Linked DNA regions of Homo sapiens: region 1 is linked to region 2. A link means that fine-mapping ties the variant in region 2 to the expression of a gene that starts in the linked region. Tissue or cell type: skeletal muscle. Region 2 holds a variant in brackets; the other region holds the start of a gene. All regions are shown on one strand. Distances are between the middles of the regions.

Region 1 (8,108 bases), 330 kb after region 2:
GTGCCACTGACAATCTCTCTGAGGCCTAGAGTGCTGAGATACTGTTCTTGTTACTCCTCCGTTTCCTCTTCTGTTACCTATCAATCCCTGTCACCTGCTTCCCGTTCACCCAACCTTCACGCAGGAGCTATTCAATTCCCTGGAGAATTACCAGTTTCATACTTTAATGTTGCCCAATAGAAATGTCATATGGCCAAATATATCACTGAAATTTTCCAGCAGCCACATTAAAAAGGTAAACAGCAACAGGTGAAATTAATTGTAACAATGCATTTGTTTAACCCAGCATATCCAAAACATGGTCATTGCAACATGTCATCAATTTAAAATTTACTAATGAAGATGTGTTATATTCTTTATTTCATCTTAAGCCTTTGATATCTGGTGTGTATTTCACATTTACAGCACATATCAGTTCAGACCAGCCACATTTCAAGGGCTCAAAAGCCACAGGTGGCTAGCAGCTACCACAATGAACAGACAGATCTGGAGCTTGGAGAAAGGGTCCTCCATGAGCACCTGGACTTTGGAAGTAGACTGTGTCCAGGTTCACGCTGAAACTGTTCAACAGGTTACCTAAAAAGCAATGCAATTTTCTTAAATGGGGACTTTCAAGAATTTGCAGTTAGATTGCCATTCATTTCCCATGTAAGAAACGTATCCATTTTGGGCTGGGCATGGTGGCGCACGCCTGTAATCCCAGCACTTTGGGAGGCCAAGGCGGGCAGATCACCTGAGGTCAGGAGTTTGATACAAGCCTAGCCAACATGGTGAAACCTCGTCTCTACTAAAAATACAAAAAAATTAGCTGAGCATGGTGGCGGGCGCCTGTAGTCCTAGCTACTGAGGAGGCTGAGGCAGGAAAATTGCTTGAAACCAGGAGGTGGAGGTTGCAGTGAGCTGAGATAATGCCACTGCACTCCAGCCTGGGTGACAGGGTGAGACTCCGTTTCAAAACACAAAACAGAACAAAAACAAAAACAAAACAAAACAAAAACCAGGGCTTTGAGAAATGTATCATTTTGTTTATGGCAATGTACTGGGGCAAAGGGACCGGAATGTATCAGGATGCTCCCTCTCTCTAGACAGAATGATTGATACAGAAAAGGAAAATGGCAGAGTTTGCAAATCTACATCTTCTGCTTTCTTCATACAAATATAATACTATAATCCAGAGGTGAGGTAGAATGATTCCTAAAACCAATCATTGCTTTAGAGGTTCCATTTGTAAATAGAAACTCCATTTCTAGGTAGAACTGCCCAATAATTCTGAGTAGAATTACTCGGTGCCACATACAAGGAGGATGCTCTAGAGCCAGCCTCCTTTCTCAGGCAGTTTTTACTGCTGGTCTGTTCTGCCCAAACAGAGAGATGGAAGAGATGGCTTTCCCAAGCCTCACACAATCCTATGATGCCATGATTTATCAGATATAAAATAAACAAGGTAATGTTTCCCTCAAATAATGGGTGTGAGATGAACGCAATTCAAGTCAAATTGCTTTCATTTTTGGAAGGCAGAGAAAGCAAGGAGATGAATGTTGATGCAGTTGAATATTTATATCTCTTAAACTTGCTTTTAAAATCCATTCTGCCCTTTCTCTTCTCTCTCCTTTATCTATGCAATCACTTGCTAATTCCTGTGAATTGAACTTTGAAATGTTTGATACATAGAACTGTCATATCCATTATCTTTTCATCTCTTTTTCGCTTAGGCCTTATTACCTCGGCCCAAACTGTTACATCTGTCTGCTGCCTGGCAGCTTCACCTCTGGACTCCTAAGACTTGAAACTATCTTACAGAACATTTCCAAGTGAATATTCCCAAATGAGCTGCTATGTGGGTCCTCTTTTGAACTCCTTCCACAGTTCCCTGTCGCTCAATACACTAAAGATTCCAAGTCCCCAAGATGTAGTCTCAAATTGCTTTGTCAGTTTTACGCCTGTGTCCAATCTTGACCTTACCATGCTCTTTTTGAACTAGAAACGATAAATTATCCTGTAAGACTTCTTACTTCTGGGACTCTGTTTCATGTACGACTGCTTACCAACTCTCTCAAAAATATCTGGTGTAATCTGACCCATCCTTCAATTCTCTTTGCAAATGCCACCTCATCAATGAAGTCCTTACAGATTCCTCCAAATAGCGTGTTTATTATCCTTATTCCTTTGAAGCCATTTACTAGTCAGAACTTCTCTTCCAGCCCCTATACATATATCCTAATTGCTGCTACTGGAATATAAATTCTTTGAAGGCAGAAATTGTGTCTTTTCACATCAGAATCATTTCCACATTGCTGCTGTACAATAACTTGACTTACATTTAATCATTGTACATAAATCACAAAGTAAATTAGTATCTCTTATCTGAATGCAGTTATGTGAGCCCTGACTTTGATGTCCAGGAATTTAGGAACTCTATTTTTATCATAAGAATAAAAACTTTTCTAAAATATCCCTCAAGGAAGATCAAAGGCAAATGAGGGTCTAAATGTCCTTTCCTTTGATGGAGGACTCGAATACTGATAGTATTCAAGACCTTCATCCTAGAATAACCGAGGTCTCCGGGTACATTTTTCATTCTGTCTAACCTGGCAAGCATCTAGATAAAAATCAGGAGTCTAGAACAAATGCAAACTCTATTGGTTAAAATTCAGATCCTCTGGCAGAGGCCAGATGGGAATGTAGCTGGTTCATTACATGTCCCTACTCGGCTTGTGAAGCAAACAGCCCAGGGTGGACCAAAATCTAGCTGTTTTACCACTACAAAAGAAATAGATTTCTGATTACACAAGTCCTTGGTGTCCACATTCTTCCCCTTCTCAAGTCAAAGTGAATTATGTGTTTTAAGTTAGCACATTAATTTCCCAATGGTAAAAGAAAGTTCAATAAAGCTAGACTACTATGCCACTTGGAACTGCCATGATTACAATATCAAAATATCTAGAGCACTCATGTTCCACCTATCAAAACAACAGCAAGAAAACATTTGCCACCTTTATTAGCTTGTCACACTCCTGCCCCCACTACTACAGCAAATGATACTCTAACATGCTCTCTAGTGTGTGTATGTGTGTCTACGTATTAATATATAAGTATATATACACACACATATATATCTTACCGCAAATTAAAATCTGGCAAATGTAGGCTTGAAATCAACAAGCCAACACAGTTAAGCAAACAGACATTTCTCCAGAATGCTGCCTGAAATGTAACCAAGACCTCTTCACATCACTGGCCAGCCAACAGCCAGCCCGCAGCTAGGAGTCTGAAGTCATTTCCCTGCCGGGAGAAAAGTTGAGCGACTCCTCATCGCTGAGACCTGGAGGTGTCTGTAACCCAAACTGTACCTGCTGAAGCCTTACGTAAAAACGTAAAAACCACCTTGTCATTGCCCAGCGCCTACAACTGACATCTCCAATTTCACAACAACCTGCAGCGAAGCTGACTTTTTCCAGAAACCGCAAACACTCAACGGAGAGAAAGGGGATCCTGGAGATCCCTGAAATGGCTAACATTTCAGGGGAGACGGAAAAATAAAAACTTTCTTGTCCCCAGCTCACTCGCTTCTTAAGGGAAAGGCATGAGGTGGGACAGGCAAACCTTGGCAAGTGCCCGAGGGGACTGGAGAGCTGTCAGCCCCAGGTGCGCAGCGTGGTCCGGGCAGCTCTGGGGGGATCCGGCAGGGCACCCCCATATTCGCTCCCCTCCTGCCCACCTGCACCCCATCATCCTCACACCCACGCCCACCCCGGCTCGGAGCGTGGCCAGGAGAGTCGGCATCGTAGAAAGCGCTGCGGGAAGCGGGCCCCCTCCCGCCCACCCGGACTCACGATCTTCAGCAGGTCCAGTCCACTCCCCTGATTCATGTCTCTCCATGTGCCTCTCCCGGGAAGGGGCGAGGAGGGCCAGCTGGAGCAACCCGGGAGAAGTCTGGGAGGACTGGCAGGTCTCCCCCGCCCTTCCCCACTGGCTTTTCGGAAGCAGAGAAAAATGGAAGCCGAGGCAGAGCCAGGAAAAGGCGCAAAGGGGCAGGGTCCCCGGCGCCAGGAGAGGAGCAGAGGGTGGGCAGGCGACGAGGGGAGGAGGTGCGAGGCTAGAGATCCCTGCAGTGGAGGCGCCGGGAGAACCCGAGGTCGGTGCCCTGCCCGGCGGCTCACAAAGGAAGGAGAAGGCGCCGCGCTCTCGCTACCTGTGCGGCGGCTCCGAGCGCCCCCGCGGGAGCCACGTTCTCTAGCAGTTCCATCTGGATCTCCTGCGCCACCGCCGCCGCCGCTGTGGGAGGCGACTTGGACATGTCCCTTTGGACCATTGGCGAAAAGTCGGCTCGGAGCGAAGCAGCCAGCCCCCGGCGGCGGGTCCCCTCCTCCTCGCCCCCGCCTCCCCGCGCTCTGATCGGCTCTGGGGGCCGCCCAGGGCTCAGGCCCGGCCGTTCTCGGCGCAGCGCCCCGCAGCGCCCCGGGACTCGGCGCCCTGCTGCCAGGCGCTCAGTGCGCGGGACGGGGCCGGGGCATCGGGCGAAGCGAGCCGCTCGGGAGGCGGGACGCGGGGGCGCGGCTGCGGTGCCTGGGAGAGGGGAGCCCTCAGCGGGGCAGCCGGGGCCGGGAGAGCGGGCGCAGCGCGGCGGGGATCGGAGCCGCGGGCGCCGGGAAAGGTCCTCGCCAGGAGGGGAGGGAACTCCGGGAGCGCGAGCCAGGGGGAGGCGCGTCGGAAAGCGAGAGTGACAAGCAGCCTACAAGCCGAAAAGTTCCTCGCGGGAGGCGCGCGCCGCGTGGGCTCCGACTCAGCCGCTGCGCGTCGCCGTGGCACACAGGCTGAAAAGTTTGCGAAGCCACAGAAGCCAGGCCCGGCGCTCAGGGGGCCTTGATCCTGTTCCCATGGCCCCAGACCACCCCTCAGGAACCCTTAGAGCAGATCTCTTAACTTTGGAGGGGAAGGACGACGGAGGCTGGGTTCCTACACTGAAAGTTTTAAATTTGTAAAGCCTGCTGGCAGCCCGGGAGAGCAAATGTCTGCAAAGAACATCTTCTGGGCAGCTGAAAGCCCTTGCTAATGTCAGTAATAAGGATCCAGAGAAAGAAATGGCATTGATAAAGATCATCAGGTGATCCCACCTGAATCTGCAGCTGGCCTCGTCAACTAGGTGGGAATCCACCCAACCTGAGACCGAATGTTTTGCTTTATGACTGCTGTCTTCATCTTTGCCAAATTAAATTAGCACTTCTTTCCAAACATAATTGAAGTTTGTTGTTGTTGTTGCTTGTTGTTGTTTTAGACGGAGTCTCACTCTGTCGCCCAGGCTGGAGTGCAATGGCGCGATCTCAGCTCACTGCAACCTCCGCCTCCTGGGTTCAAGCGATTCTCTAGCCTCAGCCTCACGAATAGCTGGGATTACAGCCACAGGCCACCAAGCCCAGATAATTTTTGTGTTTTTAGTGCAGACGGGGTTTCACCATGTTGCCCGGGCTGGTCTTGAACTCCTGACCTCAAGTAATCCACCGGCCTCGGCCTCCCAAAGTGCTGGGATCACAGGGGTGGGACACCACGCCAGGCCAGGGTTGAGGTTTTTCTATAGGGGTGAAAAGTCTTAGTGTCACATTTTTGACAAAACAAGCACTTCCTTAAGATCCAGAATTCTTGATAACAGGATAGTGACTATGGTGAGGGTGTTTCACTTACAACATTCCGTTCAGATAGTCCCAAGGAGCCACATTTTTACATGATTGAGTGCAACTTATTTCAACAAATTTTACTACAGTGGAAACTTCTGTAATGAGTTTTCCAGGCATTTTTTTTTTTTTTTTTTTGAGACAGAATTTCACTCTTGTCACCCAGGCAGGAATACAGTGGCACGATCTTGGCTCACTGCAACCTTCGCCTCCTGGGTTCAATCCATTCTCCTGCCTCAGCCTCCCGAGTAGCTGGGATTACAGGTGCACGCCACCACAGCCGGCTAATTTTTTTGTATTTTTAGTAGAGATGGGGTTTCACCACGTTGCCCAGGCTGGTCTCGAACTCCTGACCTCAGGTGATCTGCCCGCCTCTGCCTCCCAAAGTGCTGGGATTACAGATTTGAGCCACTGCATCCAGCCTAATTTTTGTATTTTTTAGTAGAGACAGGGTTTCGCCATGTTGGCCAGGCTGGTCGCAAACTCCTGACCTCATGATCCGCCCACCTTGGCCTCCCAAAGTGCTGGGATTACAGGTGTGAGCCACCGTGCCCATCCAGCTCCAGAAACCTATTTATATGTTATTTTGTAACAACAAACTGAAAGTTTGGTATATTGAAATACACATGCAAAAATTTACTATAATAGGCTTCAACTGCCTTCTATAGTTTACTATGATATATTAAATTACATGAGATACAGTACTTTTCTCCTCAAAGATAAGCATAGACATTTTAAACCTATCATCTCCACCATAGCACTGATTTGCGCCAGGCTTAAAGAATGGGTCTTGATACAGTTAAAGATTTAGCCATAAAGCATCATTGATTTTCCTAAACTTTGGTATTAAAAATGCCACTTTTATGGGCTACGGACACAAATAGAAAATTCTCAAAAGAAGATATACAAATGGCCAACAAACATATGAGAAAATGCTCAACATCAATAATGATCAGGGAAATGCAACTCAAAACCACAAAGTGATACCACCTTACCCCTGTAAGAATGACCATAATCAAAGAATCAAAAAACAGATGTTGGCATGGATGCAGTGATCAGGGAACACTTCTGCACTGCTGGTGGGAATGTAAACTAGTACAGCCACTATGGAAAACAGTGTGGAGATTCCTTAAAGGACTAAAAGTAGAACTACCATTTGATGTAGCAATGCCACTACTGGGTATCTACCCAGAGGAAAAGAAGTCATGATTCAAAAAATATACTTGCACATGCATGTTTACAGCAGCACAATTCACAGTAGCAAAATTGTGGAACCAACCCAAATGCCCATCAATCAACGAGGTGATAAAGAAACTCTGATATATATGATGATGGGATACTACTCAGCCATGAAAAGAAATAAATTAACAGCATTTGCAATGACCTGGATGAGATTAGAGACTATTATTCTAAGTGAAGTAACTCAGGAATGGAAAATCGAACATCATATGTTCTCACTGACATGTGGGAGCTAAGCTATGAGGATGCAAAGGCATAAGAATGATACAATGGACTTTGGTGACTTGGGGGGAAGTGTGGGAGGGGGCACGGGATAAAAGACAACAAATATGGTGCAAGGTATACTGCTAGGTTGATGGGTGTACCAGGTTCTCACAAATCTCCACTAAAGAACTTACTCATGTAACCGAATACCACCTGTACCCCAATAACTTATGGAAAAATAAAATTAAAAAAATTAAAATGCCACTTTTATTTAAATTTTGCTGAATGTTAAACAGCAGCACTTAAATATTGGTTTGTAATAATTTCTAAAATGGGAACATTTTGAACAGCAACAATCAGCCATGCTTTTATATGTATGCCTGTATGTATGTGTGTGTGAAAATGGAAAAGAAATTGTGTTTAAAGTTTTCGACTTATAGTCTACTTTTGCCCCATGCTCTGTTGATAATATCACTGTTTTAGGCCTACTCATTTAATCAAACTGTGAAGTTTTCTTGAGCATGTGTTTAAATCTTAGGGAAAACATTAAATCCATTTCAGACTGTAAACTCTGTGTGGACAGGAACCACACTTATTCTCTAGGACACATTCAGAATCTGGCAAGTTGCCCTCTGAGTTCTTTCAATAGTCATCCAATAAAGTATGAATCAAGCTTCTATTTTGTGCCACCTGATGAGCACAGCCAACAAAGACCAGGTTACCAGCTCCATGGGGCTTACAGTCTTGCTAGTTAGCACTTAAAAGCCAATTAATAAATGAAGGAAAGAAGGGAGGGAGGGAGGGAGGAAGGAAGGAAGGAAGGAAGGAAGGAAGGAAGGAAGGAAGGAAGGAGAAAACAAAAGAAGAAACATTATTTAAAAAAAAACACCAGGTTTGGTGAAACTGAGTGTTTTCTCATGATGTCTGTCCAGTTTCTTATAGCATGCTTATTTGTGCATTCGCTTTCAATTAGGACCATTTGGGAAGTAGAATTTC
Region 2 (8,108 bases):
GAGTTCCTTTAAGGACAGATGGTTTCCTTTATCTTTTAATTCTGCTGCTGACACCACCACCATCCACACCCAGCATTTGAGAAAGATTGCAACAAACATCTCAATGCCTACCAGGTGCCAGACGCTGAAGACACCAAGCTAAGTGCTTGTGAAAAATCAATTTAAAGGGGGAACAGACATAGCGTAATAGGATCTGGTGAACTGCATGTATAATTTAGGGGTGAACAAACTGTATGCAAAGGCTCCATGCAATGCAACTGAAGCAGGTTTAGATAGAAAGGTGAGAGATATAGTGTATATATAATATATACAGAATAACGTAAATAGTATATATAATATACACAGTATATCATAGTCTATCCAGTATATCATATGTAATATATACAATACAGTATATCAGTCTCTATATAATATATACCACATATAATATACACCATATGTTATATACTATATGTAACACATGCTGTATATCATAGTCTATATATAATATATGCAATATATCACAGTCTATATGATATATACTATACATTATATACAATATATATATTATATACATGTTGGCCAGGCCAACCTCAAACTCCAGACCTCAGGTGATCCTCCAGCCTCAGCCTCCCAAAGTGCTGGGATTACATGCATGAGGCACCATGCCTGGCCCTGAATACATTTCTTTTTAATGTGGATTTTAAATTTTTTTATTTTGGCTAGTGCAATTATCTGGTTTTCTTAAATAGAGATGAAAACGCATTCAATAAATATATAATATATATTCAATTCCTAAGTTGAATACTTTATTTTAAATGTTCATTAATTTTCATAGATATTAACTGCAAAGTGGATTTATAGCATGATAAAGAAAAAATATGAGTATAATTAATCTCTGTTTTTGTTGTTGGGTTGTATTCAAAGATGAATAGAACCAGGACTCTTAACCTCAAGATCCCAGGACTTATTGGGGTGGATAACATTGTACATAAACATGTATAAATGTGGTTAAATAGGTTTTAATAAAGAGTAGGGAGGATTTAGAGAAACTGTATCAACCATTAGATTTATTTTTATTAGTAACTAGATATTCCTTCCATGGATGTGGTTACGATTTTATAGTAACTTCTGGACCAAACCATGAAAACACTGTTGAACTTAGTTTATTATCAGTAACTCTCCATCTCAAGAACGTCATCTCTCTGAGCCTCAATTTGTACAAATGTAAAATTAAGAGGTTAGAACCGAACTACTTGTAATACAGTCTAAATAAGTTTTCCTAAGAACCACCCCACATAGGGGTCAGACTTCTAGATTTGGATACAGTTTAGGAATTTGCTAGAATTAAGCAAGAGGACTTGGAACATGAGGTTGGTTTTCATTCAAAATACAGCTGCTAAAAAGTTGAGCTAACTGCCATGCTTGCCAACAACATATTAAATACATCAAGTGGGATGACACTAGAGAGGCATAAATATTAGCAACGAAATAAAGGAAGATGGGGTAATTGACAGACTGGTGTGAAGGAAGGAATGATAAAAACCAACCCATCCAATGGCGATGTCCATGGTGCTGACCTTGAACCCCCAAGGGTGATATAACAAACTAGGCTCTGTGCTTTCTCTTTTTTTCTCCCTGAGACAGGGTCTCCCTCTGTCACCCAGGCTGGAGTGCAGTGGTGCACTCATAGCTCACTGCAGGATGGACCACCTGGGCCCAAGCAATCCTCCCACCTCAGCCTCCAGAGTAGCTGGGACCACCATGCATGGCTGATTTTCTAATTTTAATTTTTGTAGAGACAGGGTCTCGCTTTGTTGCCCAGGCTGCTTTTGCACTCCTGGGTCAAACAATTCTTAATATTATTAAATTTAAAAATATTTGCTTCTTCATAGCAACCAGTGCCAGTTATCTGCAAACATTTTATAGTAACCACCTGGCTGTATATCACTTATGGCACCTTTAAAAAATTCAGATGCATGGCCAGGCATGGTGGCTCATGCCTGTAATCCCAGCACTTTGGGAGGCTAGGGCGGGCGAATCACCTGAGATCTGGAGTTTGAGACCAGCCTGACCAACATGCAGAAACCCCATCTTTACTAAAAATACAAAATTAGCTGGGTGTGGTGGTGCGTGCCTATAATCCCAGCTACTCCACAGGCTGAGGCAGGAGAATTGCTTGAACTCGGGAGGCAGAGGTTGCAGTGAGCTGAGATTGTGCCACTACCCTCTAGCCTGGGTAACAGGAGTAAAACTCCGTCTCAAAACAAAATAAAACAAAACAAAAAAAATCAGACGCTCAGTCTGCAGTTTTGCCTGAATGCCTGCAGATTCAGATTTACTAAGTTTGGGGTGAACTTTATATTTAGCTGTATAACTTAAAGGTTGTTTGTCTGTTTGTTTTGTTTTTACTGTTGTTGTTGTTTGAGACAGGATCTGACTCCAGGCTGGAATGCAGTGGTGTCATCTCAGCTCACTGCAACCTCCACCTCCCAGGCTCAAGCGATTCTCCTGCCTCAGCCTCCCAAGTAGCTGAAACTACATATGCATGCCACTATGCCTAGCTAATTTTTTTAGTGTTTTTTGTGGAGATGGGTTTTCGCCATGTTGCCCAGGCTGTTCTCAAACTCGAGCTCAAGAAATCGGCCTGCCTTAGCCTCCCAAAATGTTGGGATTGCAGGCGTGAGCCACCACACCTGGCCTGTATATTTAAGTTTTTCAGTAATCCTGAGAAAAATTGGTGTTTGAGCACCCCAGTTCTACAGGCTACTTACTTTCCTTTATTTCTGATCAACATGTGCCTGGTAAAGGTATGCTGTTTACTAATTTTAAGATGTAGGAATGCCATCTTCCTTAAGGCCCAAGTCATACATTGTGAATTCATTCATTTCTTTAATTCACAAAAAAACACTTTTTGGGGACACTAACAATATTGTATGTATCATACTAAGCAGTAGGGGAATTCAAAGATGAACATAACAAAACAGGAAATCAGAATCTTGTAGAGGAGACAGGCTTACAAACAATTGCAATGCATTGTGAGTACTTTAGCATAGTTAAGAACAAAAAATGGAAGTTTTGCAAAGTTGGGGTTGATAGACTGTGCCTGGGGAGGGGTTTAGAAGAGGAGCAAGTTGGCAGCAAAGTTCCCAAGGGAGGACCCATTTGAGTTGGGTTGAGGGGACAAATAAATTGGGCTCCCAGGTTCCTGACTGCCACTGTCAATGGAGAATAGTAAATTATTTTCCAATTTCTCCTACTGCAGCCCACCAGATTCTCCTTCCCTAGAAATCCTGCAGCAATTAACGCGTATGTTAGTCAAATGGCATCTGACATCTACTGTTTTGCATTGCTCTGTATCTTTTACGTAGGTCTAGTCTTACTAGACTGTAAATTCACCAAACTGCAAGCTTTTTGAGGTAGGAACCACCTCCTATTGTTTTCCCAGTTGCTGGCATACACCAGACACCAATAAATATTTGTGGACCTCAAAGTTAGACTTAACACTCTCTGGGAACACAGACAGTCTTCAAGTGTGAAATTGCCAATACTGAATTTGAACACCAGTGTTGATGCCAGTTAGTAAATATTTGAATCTTGTGGCAAAAGGAGAATGCAAAGTGAATTTATTATTTCAATTGAATTACTTTAGAATAGATTATTTCAGAGTTTTCAAAAAATGACAATGTTTTTCTGTTTCATCCTATTCCATTTATTTATTTAACAAACACAGAGTCTTGCTCTGTTGCCTGGGCTGTAGTGCAGTGTTGTGATCTTGGCTCACTGCAACTTCCGCCTCCTGAGTTTAAGCAATTCTCCTGCCTCAGCCTCCCTAGCAGCTGGGATTACAGGCACCTGCCACCATG[C/A]CCGGCTAATTTTTGTATTTTTAGTAGAGACAGGATTTCACCATGTTGGCCAGGCTGCTCTCAGCTCCTGACCTCAAGTGAACCGCCCGTCTCGGCCTCCCAAAGTGCTGGGATTACAGGTGTGAGAACCACACCCAGCCTCATCCTATTCCACTGAAAACATTATTTCCACATTATTCGGACATTATTAAATTCCATAGTTTGTTTAGACATGCTTCAATCCGGGGCCCAGTTTATTAACATATTTCTAATAGTTGTGGGTCTGGAACTTGTCTCCCTACCAGGAGCTAGAATTTTTAGATGAAAGATTGTGAAGTCCCATTAAAGTGTGAATCTCTTATTCCTTCAGAAATTGCTAGTATCTACAATGGATTCTCAAATTAACAGCTACAAACGAAATCAATTTTCTTACATCTGCCAAAACACCAGGAGAGAACCTTCTATGTAGGACTTTCATATAATTCAAAAATTAACAACCATGACCAAAAAACCAAGCTGATGAGAAATACAGGTAAAATATTGACAGGCTGAGGCAGGAGCATTGCTTGTGGTCAGGAGTTTGAGACCAGCCTGGGCAACATAGTGAGACCTCGTCTCTGTAAAAAATTTAGCTGGGCATGGTGGTGTGCTGGGACCTGTAGTCCCAGCTATGCAGAAGGCTGAGGCTGGAGGGTTGCTTCAGTCCAGAAGTTTGAGGCTGCAGTGAGCTATGATCATGTCACTGCACTCTAGGCTGGGTGACAGAGCGACACTGTCTCTAAAAAATAAAAAATATATAGATTAAATAGGCAAAAGACGAACTCCAGCTTTAGTGTCTGGAAGTTATAACTCTACTTCAATGGTTGAAAGGTTTTATTTGCTACTTAGGGATTCTTGGCTTCGTGCACCGTAACTGGAATGTCAGATAAGTCATCCCCAGGGTAGGGAGGTGTGCCTGTATGTGTTTGTCAAGTGTTGTCACTCTCTTGGGAGGTTTAGATAATTTTATTAAGTGCCAAAATGTTCAGTAACAAAACCTTTATAAAGAAGTTGGGGCCGGGCGCAGTGGCCCACGCCTGTAATCCCAGCACTTTGGGAGGCTGAGGCAGGCAGATCACTTGAGGTCAGGAGTTCGAGAGCAGCCTGGGAAACATGGTGAAACCCTGTCTCTACTAAAAATACAAAAATTAGCTGGGCGAGGTGGTGGATGCTGTAATCCCAGCTACTCGGGAGGCTGAGGCAGGAGAACTACTTGAACCTGGGAGGCAGAGGTTGCAGTGATCTGCAATCATGCCACTGCACTCTAGCATGGTTGACAAAGGGAGAGGCCATCTTGAAAAAAAAAAAAAAAAGAAGAAGTTGGATGACGTACTTATCTTTGGGATCAACAAGACTAAAAGGGAATGTGGAACACTGTGCTTCCTTTTGCATGCATCCTGGGAGGAAGTAACCAGGACCACATGAAGGTAGGGTAATGCTATGGAGAGAAGAGGAACACACGCTTGGGACTAGAAGGTGGAACGAGGGTGCTCCAAAAACTCAACCTGCGGCAAGAAGCAGGATTACACTCTCATCTTCTCATCTGTACATTTTTTCCCAGGTGATTTTATTTGCCTCCATGGCTTCAAGTACATCCTATCATGGATGATTCCTATATGTACATATTTAGCCCTGAAGTCTTGTTTCTAGTTTATTTATTTTTACTGAGACAGAGTCTTGCTTTGTCGCCCAGGCTGGAACACAGTGGCATGATCTTGGCTCACTGCAAACTCCCACTCCCAGGTTCAAGCAATTCTCCTGCCTCAGCCTTCTGAGTAGCTAGGACTACAGGTGTGCATCACCAAGCCCAGCTAATTTTTATATTTTTAGTACAGATGGGGTTTCACTATGTTGGCCAGGCTGGTCTTGAACTCCTGACCTCAGGTAATCTGCCTGCCTCGGCCTCCCAAAGTGCTGGGATTACAGGCGTGAGCCACCATGCCCGGCTGTTTCTAGTTTTCTATATCCAACCACCTCCAAGAATATCCATCTGATCCTCCCACAGCTCAACAAGTCCCAAGACGAAGTCACCTGTTCAAAGCCTGGCCTTCCCATCTGCCCCATTCTGTTGAATATCCCTTTAACCTGGACTCCTTCCTCTTGGTTCTTTCCCACTTTGCATTGGTTCACTAGAATCTGCATGTTCTAACCACTAAATACATAGTTTTAAAATGCCTCCCCTCCTCTCCCATTCCTACCGCCCCTGCGTAAATGCAGATGCTGTCAATTTTCTCCAGTTTAACTTTTTGAACACGTTGGAAAGGAATAAGAGCAGAAGCAGAGTCCAGATGAGAGTGGATGGTGGCTTGGAGATGTGTGGTAGTGGTGAAGCTGGGTGTATTTTAGAGTTATTATAGAAACAACAGGGCTTATTGATGGCTAGGGCCATTATTGAAAAGGGGGAGCCTGAGAGAAGAACATGTTGGGTGGTAGAGGTGGGCAATCAGGTGCTCCGATTTGGGTAAGTTTGAGGTCCGTGTGAATATACAAGTGGGGAAGCTTGGAAATAAAAATTGAATCTAAGAGTGAGAAGTAAAGAGAAAAGAGCCAAATTCTTTTTTTTTTTTTTTTTTTTTTAATTTTTGAGACAGGGTCTCACTCTGTTGCCCGGGCTGGAAGGCTGTGGTGTGATCACTGCTCACTGCAGCCTCGACCTCCTTAGGCTCAGGTGATCCTCCCATGTCAGCCTCCCAAGTAGCAAGCATGGACCACCACACCTGGCTAATGAAAAGAGCCAGGTTCTAAGTGCTAAAGAACCCTAACTTTGAGAAGTTATGCAGAGGGATAGGAGTCTGTCTGTCCCTACCACTCCCTCCCCAAAAGAAAAAAAAAAAGAACTGGCAAGAGATGTCCAGAGAACATGGTGTCTCAGAAGCCAAGAGCAGAGAACATGTCAAGTTGGAGGTAGGGTTCAACGATTGTGAAGGCCGCTGACAGCTTGGGTAAGATAAGACGATGTTTATGACTTCTCTGACAGCACAGAGGTTGTTAGTGGCCTTGTTGGGAGCAATGTGTTAGAGCTGTGGGAGGAATATCTGGACATGAAGAGGAGAGGAAGGGAGAAGTTAAGTGCAGACCACTCATTTGTCAAAGGCCTGGCTGGGAAGGGGGGCAGAGCTAGGAGGCTGCATGGAGCGGGAGGAGCTGGGATGTGGTGTTTTGGGCTCTGATCATGGGCCACTCCATAATGTCCATAATATGTCATGCTGATGGAGTGATCCAGTAGAGAGGGGATGACTAGATGCTGCAGGATAGGAACTCTTGGGGCCAGGCACGGTGGCTCCCACCTCTAATCCTGCTTTGGGAGGCCAGGGTGGGCAGACTACTTGAGACCAGGAGTTCCAGACAGTCTGGGCACCATGGCAAAACCCCATCTCTACAAAAAAAAAACAAAAAACAACAAAAAAAAAACAACTAGCAGGGCATTGTGGCGTGCACCTGCAATCCCAGCTACTCCGGAGGCTGATGTAGGACAATCACTTGAACCTGGGAGGTTGAAGCTGTGAAGCCGCAGTGAGCTATGCTTGTGCCATTGCAATCCAGCCTGGGTGACAAAGCAGGACCTTGATTCCAAAAAGAGAAAGAAAAAGTCTTGGAAGGTGAGAAACAAAGAACACAAAAACTTTTTTTTTTTAATAGATAAGAGGTCTTGCTATATTGTCCAGGCTGATCTTGAACTCCTGGGCTCAAATGATCCTCCTGCCTCAGCCTCCGAAAATGCTGGGATTACAGGTGTGAGCCACCATGCCTGGCCAAGAACAGGAGGATTCTGACAGGAGGAGAGATGCTTCTTCTAACAGGAGGGAAGAAGGAGAACACACAAGGGGCACAGATAAAGGCAGGTTTACAGATTTGGTGGTGGCAAGATGAGGCTGTTGCTATCTGTGAAGTTTTTATTTCTTAGTGGAGCATGAAGTGAGGTCAATAAATGAAATAAGTGGCCGGGTGCGGTGGCTCTTGCCTGTAATCCTAACACTTTGGAAGGCCAAGTTGGGTGGACCATGAGGTCAGGAGTTCGAGACCAGCCTGGCCAACATGGTGAAACCCCGTCTCTACTAAAAATACAAAAATTAGCTGGGCGTGGTGGCACACACCTGTAATCCCAGCTACTCATGAGGCTGAGGCAGGAGAATCTCTTGAACCTGGGAGGTGGAGGTTGCAGTGAGACTAGATCGTGTCACTGCACTCCAGCCTGGGCAACAGAGTGAGATTCTGTCTCAAAAATAAATAAATAAAAATAAAAAA

Evidence for each region. PIP is the estimated chance that this variant, and not a neighbour inherited with it, causes the effect.
Region 1: it holds the start of CACNB2, and the variant in region 2 is fine-mapped to the expression of CACNB2 in skeletal muscle (FUSION, PIP 0.92).

What each region holds. Positions count from the first base shown.
Region 1 is chr10:18,136,941-18,145,048 of GRCh38, reverse strand. It overlaps CACNB2 (calcium voltage-gated channel auxiliary subunit beta 2), which reads right to left and starts at 4,625. Exons shown (of 14, transcript NM_201596.3): 1 at 4,193-4,625. The coding sequence starts at 4,312.
Region 2 is chr10:18,462,751-18,470,858 of GRCh38, reverse strand. The region is part of intron 3 of CACNB2 (calcium voltage-gated channel auxiliary subunit beta 2); the gene reads right to left. Among named protein-coding and RNA genes, the nearest start is that of CACNB2-AS1, 72 kb to the left of the region's middle. The variant C/A (reference allele first, on the strand shown) is at 3,846.